2 separate regions of the Homo sapiens genome follow, and region 2 is linked to region 1. A link means that fine-mapping ties the variant in region 1 to the expression of a gene that starts in the linked region. Tissue or cell type: lung. Region 1 holds a variant in brackets; the other region holds the start of a gene. All regions are shown on one strand. Distances are between the middles of the regions.

The links. PIP is the estimated chance that this variant, and not a neighbour inherited with it, causes the effect.
Region 2: SYTL5 starts here. The variant in region 1 is the best candidate, but not a certain one, in a credible set for the expression of SYTL5 in lung (TOPMed, PIP 0.72).

What each region holds. Positions count from the first base shown.
Region 1 is chrX:38,066,998-38,073,658 of GRCh38, reverse strand. SYTL5 (synaptotagmin like 5) reads right to left here. Exons shown (of 17, transcript NM_138780.3): 4 at 1,497-1,612; 5 at 1-69. Among named protein-coding and RNA genes, the nearest start is that of MIR548AJ2, 46 kb to the right of the region's middle. The variant T/C (reference allele first, on the strand shown) is at 3,697.
Region 2 is chrX:38,003,496-38,010,156 of GRCh38, reverse strand. It overlaps SYTL5 (synaptotagmin like 5), which reads right to left and starts at 3,604. Exons shown (of 17, transcript NM_138780.3): 1 at 3,489-3,604.

The DNA.
Region 1 (6,661 bases):
CAACAGGTGAAGTGTCTGACTTTTCTGCATCCTGGCGGGTTTGCTCTTGGCTCTGTACTTCTTCAGCTCCTCATTAACAAACAATCAGAAGAGAAATTTACATACAAAATGGCCAGAAATGAGAGCAAATTTATATTCTGCTTTCACTTTCCCAGATTAGCTCAGGGCAAGGAAGTCTATAATAATTGGCAATGCCATTCCCATCCCAAGTTTTTCTGTCACACAGTTAGTTCTAATTTGTTGAGTGTTCTAGAGTTAACTGAAGACAAAGATCCTGAACTCATCTGTGGGAGGTTTACTGAGATAACCTTCCTAGGGATGACTGCATCAGCCTTCTGTTGATATTTTTAGAGCAGGGGAACATGGTCTCCTAAGATCTCCAAATCCCTGGAGACTGAGTTCTAGCATGAGGTTGTAGAAATGATGTCCTAATTTCTGGGCATATAAGCCACACTTCCTGGGAGGGTGGGCATCTGTGCAAATATATTGTGACTTGAGGAACTGCCTACATTCTGGAAGGTACTGGGGTTTGAGTGGAAGAAGAGGCCATGGCTGATTGCCTAATTCTAACTGTACTCCACACCATCTCTCTGTAGTATCGGATCTGTGTGACCTATGTGGAAAAGCCTTTCCTTGCTAGTGCCACACCCAGAAGTACCACTGGAATCAGTTCCAAGCCTTCTCGCCATATGTGCCAGACTTAAATACAAGGGCACTTGTCTCCTCTGGATGAAAGATGAGATAAGCCTAGAAACAGGCTGAAAGATGTTTCTTCCGCTTTTACTACACCATATACGAGAAACATGCTCCCAATCACAAGGTTTACTCCATCTTTAATTAACTAAATTGTAATTTGAATGCACCAAAAGGCACTGTCAAGGTAAAGTGTTATTTTCATTTGGTGCCAGTATTCATTCAGTAAGACTATGCATTTCAAGCCATTTAGCATCTCTGGCTCCTTCCCACCAAATGCCATTGACTCACCAGTCACTGTGACAACCAGAAATGCCCCCCTTGCCTTTCCAAATGCTCCCATTTTGAGGGAGGGAGACAAGGTACATATTATCAATCTTTGATTGAGAACCACTGGATTTAAAAAGTAACATTGAAAGGAAATCGGAAATAAATATTGTTGAAAAATCAAGGATTGCTTTCACAATGTGAATCATTTAATTCATCTGTTTTATGTTACTTTAAGTGTTTAGTAAAATATTGGATGCATTCAGAAAGAGAACTGTCTATGATGGAGACAAATGGTTTCTTTGAAAATCTTAGTGGGTGAGATATATGGAAAATCATTGTGAATTTTGTTTTCTACTGACTTCTTCTTGTCTTGTATGAATTACGTATCTAGATTTCATGCTACCAAGTTGTGAAATGCCCTAAGGGATTCAAGAAACTCATTTATGCTGATTAACTACATAACATAGAGAAGTTATTTAGTTAGCCAAATGGAGATGAAAACAGTTGTGAAACCACATAATTGCTTTAATTACCTGGACTTCTTCTTAAAATGGACTGTCGGACAACATCAGTGCCGAGAACATTGACTTGCTTGAAACGTTTTGCCTTTTCTTCAAAAAACCACTCACCAGTTATAATCCTTAGCTGCCTACTCAAGGGAAAAGGGAAGAGCATTGAAATTCAATTATTTAGCCACATAATTAACTCTCAAAAATCCCTAATAAACTGAAAACAGCAAATTATTTATAAAGTTTATCTCAATCTCTGGAGTATTTTATGGTGATAATAATAGCCAGTATTAATTGAATGTTTACTATCTGCTAGGTACTTGCTAATTACGGTTCATACTTCATATATTTTTATCCACATAGCAACCTTATGTAAACACTATTATCCTAATGTTATAGATGAGGAAATTGGGACTTAGAGCAATAAAATAATGTGCCTCATATCACACAGCTGGTAAGTAGCAGAGCCAGGATCCCATCCCAATAAGTCTGACCTGGGGCTCAAGTTCTTAACCACTGCATTAGTGGATAAGTGATCTTCAATGCAAGCAATAGGGATCAAGTAAAGGTTTGGAATGAAAAAGAGGTCATGATCAGACTCTGTGATCAGACTTATGATCAGATCTCTGTGATGAAAAGATTCTTTGATATAACATGTACAGTGGGTTAGACTGATGAGAGAATAGGATAAAGAGACAGGTTGGCCATTGTAATAGTCCAGGAGACAGATGATGGCACCCATGCTAGGGCAATGGTAAGACTAAAAGAGGAGTAATAAATTCAGATCATAGGTGGTGGAAGTGCTTGCCTGGATTTGGTAATAAGTTCAATGTTAAAGATGGGAAAGAAGGATCCTTGAATAGTCACACCCATCTTTTAAACCCTACCTGCAATGGCTACATGAAATCACCCCCATCTTCCCTCCTGAAATGCTTATAATCCTCTTCTTTGTCTGTACTTCTCCCATTACTTATAGCGTCCTTCAGTATTATTTCTACCCTCTCATTTCGACTGGGTTGTAAATGCTCTGAGAACTGATTTCTGTCTGCTTCATCTTTTGTTTTCCATAGTACCTACAAGAAAGTCTTTCACAGACCACGATCTCAATTAATGTTTTTCAAATGAATGACTACTCTCTCATAATTTTAACACATTACCCTTCTTTTCATATTCTCATAGTTCTTATTATCATCAGTGAAATGAGGGCAGGGACCTTGGCTGTGTTGTTCACCATTTCCAGGAGCAGTAACTGGCACTCAGGAAATATTTGTGGAATGAATTAGAATACCTGGAATTCAACCTATAGTAGTTATGCTGCTATAAAAGTCCTTTTCTGGCATATCACAAGGATTTTAACAGCTGTAGAAGTCATTCGGTAGACTAAATATATTTCTAATTAAAAATTAAGAAATGGCTTTAGCTGATTAGGTGAGCACTATTGTCCCAAAACCTCTATGGGCATGTTCTGAAAATAGTAAATAGGACTATGTAACTACGGTAAAGGATTTGTGGAGAATTCTATTGAAAACTGGAGTTAAAAGGTAGGATTTGGGGTCAAATATTTGAATGCTGAGGTAAAGAGGTGGAATGTCATTCTAGCAGTTTTTCTAAAGTTCAGATTGAATCACATAATCTCTGGCTAAATATATGAAGAAGAGAGAAACCAGAGGTAGGCAGGCAAATTAGAAAGTTAAACAATAAAGAGGATAGAAAATGATGAAGATGCAAATCAGGGTATCATGGAGGTGAGGAGTAAAGGGAAAGACACATACACTTGGCCCACTGAGAATGAGAATCAGTAAGAATTGGTGACATGTCTGATATGGTGGCTGAGGAAAAGCAACTGAGAGTCAAATAGGCATTTCAAGCCCCAGAATATTATATCCATTTGATTCAGCAACTTATTGGACTTGAAAATCAATAGCTGGATCTCAAATAGAAAAGTCACTCTTGAAAAATATGTCAACCTTCTTCCCCAATTATCCTGAAATCTGCTTGTTCAGCAATTATCCTGAAATCTGCTTCGGAATCTGAGGCAAAGGTAAATTATATATGAAACACCATTCCACTACTGGCAAAAAGTGAAAATGTTAACCTTGGAGAAAAGTATTCATTGAAAGGTAAGACCATAGTTTGTCTACCATAGATTTACTCCCAAGTGGTTATATTACCTATTGAGAAGCCCAGACTATTGGATAAGCTCCATAACAGTAACTATATAAAA[T/C]ACGCTTATGGAATACGGTCAAATCTAAGATATAACCTACCAAAACCAAAAGCTTGAATGGGTTAAGTTATTTCTGGATACATTTCAAGTGATCTATAGACTTATGTATCACAGTGTTGGAAATCCAGGTGACAATTGTGGTATTCTAAATTCGAAAGATGTCTCCTGTTTCTTGGCTATTCAGTCAAACACTAATCCAGGTGCTGATGTGATCAGACATTACAGATGGAATTAGGTTACTAATTAGCTGACCTTAAAATAGTGAGATTATCCTAGATTATCCACATGGGCCCAAAGCAATCACATAAGCCCTTAAACACAAAGGAAGAAGAGGAAGTCAGTAAAGACAATGCAGAATGGAAAGTCAGATTGCAAATATGAGAAAGATTTTATGTGCTGAGAAAGCTCTGAGGTGTAGAGGTCCACAGGCAATGACTGGAAAGTGAGACCTCTATGAGCTAAGAATGGCTTTCCGTGAACAGTCAACAAGGAAATGAGCACCTCATTCTGACAGCCACAAGGAACTGGATTCTGTCCACAAGAATGAACTTGGAAGTGGATTCTTCCCAGAATCTCTTTATAGAAAAAAGAACTCAACTAGCCAACACCTTGATTTCAGCCTTACAGAACCTGGAGTAGAGAAACGAGTCAAACTCGTTTGAGCTCCAAAACTGTGAAATAATACATTTGCATTGTTTTAAACTGCTAAGCTGTAGTAATAGTTAAGGTGGCAATAGAAAACTACTATGATAAGTTAACATAGAAATATATTTGTTCTAATATTCAACTCAGGAAATTGCATAGGTTGTAAGAAGATGAATAAGGAAAATTCAGAAACAAAAGGGAAAAGGTAGGCACACTATGGCCCATGGGTCAAATTCACCCCATCATCTATTTTGTACAGCCTGCAAGCTAGAAATGATTGTTACATTTTTAAATGGTTGAAAAAAATCAAAATAAAAATACTTAATGACATGTGAAAAGTATATGAAATTCAAATTTCAGGGTCTATAAATAGGGTCTTCTAAAAAATAATTTCAACTTTTATTTTAGATTAATAGGGTACATGTACAGGTTTGTTACGTGGGTATATTGTGTGAGGCTGAGGGTTGGGGTATAAACGATCCCGTTGCCTAGGTACTGAACATAGTATCCAATAGGTAGTTTTTCAACCCTTGCCCCCACCCCCAGGAGTCCACAGTATCTATTGTTGCCATCTTTATCTCCATATGTACCCAATGTTTAGCTCCTACTTATAAGTTAGGACATGCAGTATTTGGTTTTCTATTCCTGCATTAATTCGCTTAGGATAATGGCCTCCAGCTGCATCAATGTTGCTGCAAAAGATATGATTTCATTATTTTTATGACTGCATAGTATTCCATGTTGTATATGTACCACAATTTCTTGATCCAATCTACTGTTGATGGGCACCTAGGTTAAGTCAATATCTTTGCTTTTGTGAATAGTGTAGCTGTGAATATATAAGTATATGTGCTTTTGTACAATGACTTTTTTCTCCTTTGGGTATATACCCAGTAATGGGATTGCTGGGTTGAATGGTATAATAGTTTTGTTTTTAGTTCTTTGAGAAATCTCCAAACTGTTTTCCACAGTGGCTGAACAAATTTACATTCCCACCAACAATGTATAAGCATTTCCTTTTCTCCACGACTCACCAGCATCTGTAATTTTTTGACTTTTTAATAATAACCATCTGACTGGTGTGAGATGGTATTTCATTGTGCTTCTGATTTGCATTTCTCTGATGATTAGTGATGAATATTTTTTTCATATGCTTGTTAGCTCCTTGTATATCTTCTTTTGAGATGGGTCTGTTCATGTCCTTTGCCCACTTTTAAATGGGATTATTTGCTTCTTTGCTTGTTAACTTTATTACAGATTATGGATATTAAACATTTGTTGGATGCATAGTTTCCAAATAGTTTCTCCCATTCTGTGGGTTGTCTGTTTGCTCTGTTAGTTTCTTTTGCTGTGTAAAATTTTTTAGATTAATTAGGTCTCATTTGTCAATTTTTGTTTTTATTGTAATTACTTTTGAGGAATTAGTAATAAATTATTTGCCAAGGCTGATATTCAAAATGATACTTCCTTGGTTTTCTTCTAGAATTTGTATAGCTTGAGGTCTTACACTTAAATATTTAATCAATCTTGAGTTAATTTTTGTATATAGTGAAAAATAGGGGTCTAGTTTCATTCTTCTGCATGTGGCTAGCCAGTTATTCCAGCACCATTTATTAAATAGGGAGTCCTTTATTCATTGATCATATAAATAAAGTTTTATTGAAAGATATCCATGCTCAATTGTTTATGTGTTGTCTTTGGCTGCTTTTGTGCTACAACTACAAAGCTAAGTGGTTGCAGCGGTAGACCACATAGCTCTCAAAGCCTAAAATATTTGCTCTCTGGTGTTTTATTACAAAAAAGAAGAGTTTTTAACTTTTGCAGGAGGCAAAGAGTACACAAAAAGAAATAAGAACAAGGGGGAATACTATAGTTCAGTGACTAAAAATTGCTAAATAGTGGCATGCCAAGGCCTTAGATCTTTTTTTTTTTTTTGATATGTTCTTTGGATGTGAGATGGAGTAGATAGCATACTGACAGCAGTTTCATGTGTGACAGAAGAAAGTGGACACATCCAGTCTACATTCTCCAGGAAATGGGCCTCCATATCACTTTTACCATGCATGCTTAGAGCTGCCAACACCTAACACAAATAAGATCTTCCCAGAATTGTTAGTCATTACCTCTTGCTACCCTTGGAGAATAATAACTATAAGTCTTGTATTTGTTCAACTCAGATAATGCACTTGAGTCATTTGTCATTTCAGAGAAAATACCAGAACAGATTGTTGAGATTATGCCTTTGTCACCCTCTCAGGTGTCACGTCTTGTCAGGAGGCAGACAGAAGGCTTGGTAGAACAGGAAACTAATACTTAGTGA
Region 2 (6,661 bases), 64 kb after region 1:
ACTATTGTTATCCCCAATTGACAGTGAGGAAACTCAGCAACAGGAAAGCTAACTAAGTTTTCTCAATTTCATGCAGCTGGTAAGTAGCAGAGCTGAGATTCAAACTCAGGTCATCTGACTGCAGAGTCAACACTCTCAACCCCTGCACAATATGATTTCAATAGTTAAGACCTGGGGTTTTGGTCTCTGCTACTGAGTTATTCTTCCAGCAACAAATCTTACTTTAATATCTATATAGTTCTTCATAGTTCAAAATGATTTCCTCTCCATGACTATATTTGTTCCTGTGGCCACTATATGAGATAGAATGAGTCTGAGGAAACTGTGGTTCACAGAGAGTGCACAGGGGGCAGTGAATGGTAGAATCAAAACTTAAACCTGGCTCTTTGGCTATGTTCTTTTCACTACCCCAATGATTCTGGGGCTTAGAAAAAGAAGATATCCATGAGGTGTGGACTTTCTGATGGAGATGGGGCCTGACCAAAACCTTGAATTGTAGGTAGCTCTTAGACTGAGGGAAAAAAGGATGAGAAAATAGAGAATAAAAGAAAAAAATAACAGAAAAGGGAGATGAGAGAGGATGGCTTCTAGATACATTATAATTAAAGAAATGAATGGACTTGGTAGTGGTTTGGATATTGAGAGCAAAGGAAAAGTTAGAAGCAAAATTGACTCCAAGATTTCAAATGTGAGAAACCAAGAGATCATTAATGCCATTCACAGAAACAAATGAAATGAAAGGGGAAGTGGTTTGACATAAAAGCTGTGAGTTTGGCTACAATCATGATGAATGTCGAGTGACCCTTGGACATACAAGTGGGAAAATGTATAGCAGATGGAAAAGATAAGATGTGGAAATGGAAGTCTTGGAGGTATCCACTTAGAGGTGATATTTAAAACTAAGGGTTGATAAGAAGTTATAGAGAAAGGCAAAACGTAATAGGTTATAGGCTAAATAAATGCTAAACCTTTGAGGGAAACCCAAACTTAAGGAAGAGAAAAGGAAAAATAGACAAGAAGGGAAGTGGTAGAAAAGCAGTTGAATAAATAGTATAGAGTCATGGACAAGAAGGAAAGAGAAAATTTAAGAAGTAGGAATTGATCATGTGTGTCACATAGAGCCAAGGGGATGAATAAAATGAGAATTTGGAAAAGTATTCCTTATAGCCCTTATCACACTTGTAATGAATTATTTGGGTGAGTTAACACCCTTCCTAACTAGACTGGAGATATATAAAGGCAGACTTAAGTGTTCCCTACTGTAACTTCAGTGCTCAGCAATGCCTGATGCATAGCTGTCACTAAATAAATATTTATTGAATGGATGAATGAATACATAAATAAATGAATGTACTTGAATTTCCTAGCAGCACTACAGGTGACCCTTGGAAGTACAGTGTCAATAAAGTGATGAAGATTGATTTTATGTCATAGGGGAATTTGAAAGAAAGATTTTAAAAGAGAAAGTGAGGCAGTAGGGTATGTTTTATTAATCACTTCTTAGAGAAATGTTTTTGTTAAAAGGAGAGAGAGACCAGATCAAGTGAATTTTTTATCCCAGTACACTACATGTTTATTATATTTTGTTCCTCTAGGAGCTCCTCCCTATTTTAGATAATCTTTCAGAACCTAAGGTAACCACAGCGGTTGCTAACTCTGCAAGTAACAGAAGCACCATCTGCTTTTTTGCTGTCTTCAGTAAAATCAAAAGTCCATGGGCTAAGCAAGATGGAAGATGTAGAGAAACAGAGGTCAAAGGAAATGATGATACTCCCCACAGAAAGAGATAACCAGGAATGGAACGAGGTTGGAGAGAAGTTTTGTGAAATCATGGAAAATGTGTGAATGTATATAGAGGGGTGAGAGAGAAAGAGGATGAGAGACCACAGACAAGTAAGATATGAATGTACAAAAGCATATTTACAAGTAGATTTTAAGTAGAATGTATTAAAGATGATTAGCTAAGTGCTTACGCAGGATGGCAAAATAGTCATAAGATACATCATCATATAATAGAGCTTAAGTAAAACGAACTGCTCATTTTACATATTAAAGCTACATTTCCTTTTCCTTCCCTTAACATACTAAATAATAATAAGGAAGTAATTTCAACAAAAATACTAAATGGGCCTCCAAAAGAAAAGAGGTAGAAGCTCAATAATTTTATTCACTAAACCTATCAGAAGACTTTAACAAATCTGAATAAATAGAAGGATAACATAGCTAATACCCAAACTTAAAATAGCAAAGAATTTCAGGAAATCATAAATACATAGAAAAAGCATGATTCAACAACTAAAAGAGCAGTAAGACATTTTCTCAGTTATTAGTTGCCCACATGTAAATATGCATGTATATGTGGGTATGTACATATATATACTGAGGGATGCAAGGACCAATTTAAGGATTTCACTAGAGTCCAAACAAATGGCTTCATGCATTTAAGACCTAGGGTATGAATTGTAACACTTTTGTGTGTAAGCTGTTGTCCAAATAACATATAAACAACTTATTACAAAATGAAAAAATTATATACTTAATTCCTGTGTTTAAAATACTTTTTAAGGAGGCTACTACTGAAGTAGTACTTCTAAATGCATTATTACATGTAAACAATATTTTATACTATTTTGAATGCTATAAATATATAACTCCTGTTTTCTCCAGGCATATGCTTTTCTCCAGGCATACACATATACTTGGAGCAAAGAGAAGTTATATATTAATAGTTGTAAAATTACGTTTTTCATTTAAATGAGGAAGACAGTATTGGTAATTAAAACAATCTACATTAAGGAGAAATTTTTTAAACCCTGATGCATCTTTTCAGAGTATATTAATGTTCACAGTTAATATCGCATTTCTGTAAGCTGTTACAGTATCATATTCATGTTGAAATTATTCCAGGTTTTTCAGACTTTATTAATCCTTCTACTGAATTTATATCCATACTGGATATTTGTCCATATCAAAAATGGAACTGAATGTAAAAACAATTAAATAATTCCAAATGAAACATCTAAATTTTCTAATAAATGAAAGAAATTCAGAGCAAAAGGACAATCTATGTTATATAGAGATGTGAGAGGTTTATATAGAGAGGTGTGAGAGATTTATAGCAAAATGATGCAACACTTCTGCTGTGAATTTGATTTTTTTATGTCACTAGAATGCATATTTGTTCCTGGAGGCACTCACTCTTCAGTAGAACCTAGTGCAATGCTTCACTTCATAGATAGAATCAAGTGTTAATAACAAAAAGATACTTATATTTCTCTCCTCAATCCATTAAACTCATAGCTACCAATGGCCAAAATGTCCCTTCTGTACATATTTCTCCCTTTTTTACTGTAAAATACAATATCAAATGGTGGAAGGAGCTGTTTTCTTCCTGACCAGCAAATCCCACTACTCCCCTACCACACACAAAATACAGAAATTAAGAAATCAGATATCACACTGGAGATCCCTAAACGCATTAGTCTTACCTTAATCTGAAGGTTAGAATGTTTTTATGGGCTTATTTTTCTCTCAAACACACAAACTGTAGAATGCTGGACTACTTGACCCTTGTGAACTACTTGGAGCAGGAACTTGAAAAACCAGCCTCTCATATTCCCACAATCTATTTACACATTGAACACACCCAGTAGCACAGAGTAATGTTTATCTGTTGCAGACAGCTATTTCAAGAAGAAGGCAGTATCTCTAAAGCTGAGCTTTCAAAAAGGAATGTCTCTGTTGATCAGCAGGGGAAAGGTAACAGGTTTCATCTAAAGCACATTTTAAACATTTTTTGACATGAGGTATTTTTTACACCAGTGTTTTAAAGGTGATTCACTCTTTTAATATTCTTCTACCCCTGAAAATCTCTATTCTTAAAAAACCTGGGAGAAACGTGATAACAATGAACACATATGTGCCAGGCACTGTTGTAAGTGCTTTACATATATCCTCTCCAATAATTCTCCAAATGTGTTAGGTGTATAATATTATTATCCCCATATTACAAATGAACAAACTAAGTAGTCTGCCCACAGTCACCCAGTTAGTAAGTACTGGAGTCAAAAGTTAAATCCAGGCACTCCATAACCATAGTCCAGGTATCTAATCATAGCACTGTGCTATGTATGTATGACTTTTAGAAGACAAATGTGTAACAGTATGTGATTGCTCAGCTGAACATTAGAGAATGAGTGAGGTTTTCTCAGTGCTTGTATGGTACTGAATCTTTAGTTGAAGTAAGTGAAATTTTTGTTAAGATCACTTCTGCCAAGGTGATTACCCATTTATGTTACCATAGCCAGGTCCCTTTTAGCTACAGTGGGGAACCCCAAAGGTGGTGTCCTGGAGAATCGAAAACGTGAGTCTAGCTTGAAGTACCAAGAGAGTTATTACTTTCTTATGTTAAAAAACTCATACAAAAGAAGTCAATACAACACCTTTAAAAAGTTTAGAGATACATGTTTTGTTCCATTTTTTTCAGATTGGATGATTACTTTTGATCTGTCTTCAAGCTCATTTGATGCTAGCCATCTCCAAACTAATGTGAGCCCATCTAGTGTGTTATTAATTTCAGTTACTATAATTTTTTAAGCTCTAAAATTTCCATGTGGTTATTTTTATAGTTTCCATTTCTCTGCTGAAATTCACTATCTGTACATTTATAAAGATCATATTTTCCTTTCATTCTTTGAACCTATTTTCTGTTTGTTCTTTGAATACATAATAATTGATTTAGTCTTTTTCTATGAAGTTTAACAACTGGACATTTTTGGGTCTGTTTCTACTGATTTTATGACAATAGGTGATATTTTCTTGTTTCTTTGCATGTTGAATTTTTTTATTGCATATTGGACAATGGGGATCATATAGTGTAAAGACTCTGCTATCTCCCTCTGAGGAGTATTAATATTTGTTCTATTAATATTGGCATTTCCATAGAATTGGTTTGGTTTTGCTAATGTAGTTATGCAGAAAGTCTAAGGTCCTTTCCAAGCCTGATGAATTTGGGAGATCAACCTACAAATTCTGTCTCCCCTGCAGATCTTGTAAGGGCTGAGTTTTAGGATTTTTTATTTGTAATTTTTATGGAAAAATAGTAGGTGTATATATTTATGAGTTACAGAGATATTTTGATACAGGCTTGCAATATATAAAGATCACATCAGGGTAAATGGGGTATCCATAGCCTCAAGCAATTATCCTTTGTGTTACAAACAATACAATCATACTGTCTTCATTATTTTAAAATGCACAATTAAATTATTATTTTTACTATAGTCACCCTGTTGTACTAAGAAATACTATGTCTTATTCATTCTTTCTATTTTTGTACCCATTAATCCTCCCTACTTCCCCCCAGCACCTCACTACCCTTCCCAGCCTCTGGTAACCATATTTCTACTCTCTATCTCCATGAGTTCAATTATTTTCATTTTCAGCTCCCACAAGTAAGTGAGAATATGCAAAATTTTTTTTCTGTGTCTGGCTTATTTGACTTAACATAATGACCTTCAGTTCCATCCATGTTGTTGCAAACGACAGAATCTCATTCTTCTTTATAGATGGTAGCACTCTATTGTGTATATGTACCACAGTTTCTTTATCCATTCATCTGTTGATGGACATTTATATTGCTTCCAAATTTTGTCTATTGTAAATAGTGCTGCAGTAAACATGGGAGTGCAGATATCTCTTGAATATACTGATTTCCTTTCTTTTGGGTATATACTCAGGAGTGGGATTGCTGGATCATATGGTAGCTCTATTTTGAATTTTTTGAGGAACCTACAAACGGTTCTCCATGCGATTGTACTATTTAAATCTAAGACCTCAAACTATGAAACAACAAAAACAAAACATTGGGAAACCTCTCTAGCACATTTGACTGGGCAAGGATTTATTGAGTAATACCCCACAAGCACAGGCAACCAAAACAAACAGTGACAAATGGGATCACATCAAGTTAAGAAGCTCCTGCATGGCAAGGAAACAATCAACAAAGTGAAGAGCCAACCTACAGAGCAGGAGAAAATATTTGCAAACTACCAATCTGACAAGGGATTAATAACCAGAATATATAAGGAGCTCGAATAACTCTATAGGGAAAAATATAATGATCTGATTTAAAAACTGGCAGGGGATCTCAATAGACATTTCTCAAAAGAAGACATACAAATGGCAAAAAGGCATATGAAAAGGTGCTAAATATCAGTGATCATCAGAGAAATGCAAATCAAAACTACAATGAGATGTCATCTTACTCCAGTTAAAATGGCTTATACCCAAAAGAGAAGCAATAACAAATGCTGGTGAGGATTTGGAGAAAAGGGAACACTTGTACACTGTTGGTGTGAATACAAATTAGTACAACCACTCTAGAGAACAGTTTGAAGGTTCCTTTAAAAACTCAAAATATGAACTTAAAGTAGTTTTTTCCAATTCTGTGAAGAAAGTCATTGGTAGCTTGATGGGGATGGCATTGAATCTATAAATTACCTTGGGCAATATGGACATTTTCACGATATATATTCTTCCTACCCATGAGCATGGAATGTTCTTCCATTTGTTTGTATCCTCTTTTATTTCATTGAGCAGTGGTTTGTAGTTCTCCTTGAAGAGGTCCTTCACGTCCCTTGTAAGTTGGATTCCTAGGTAT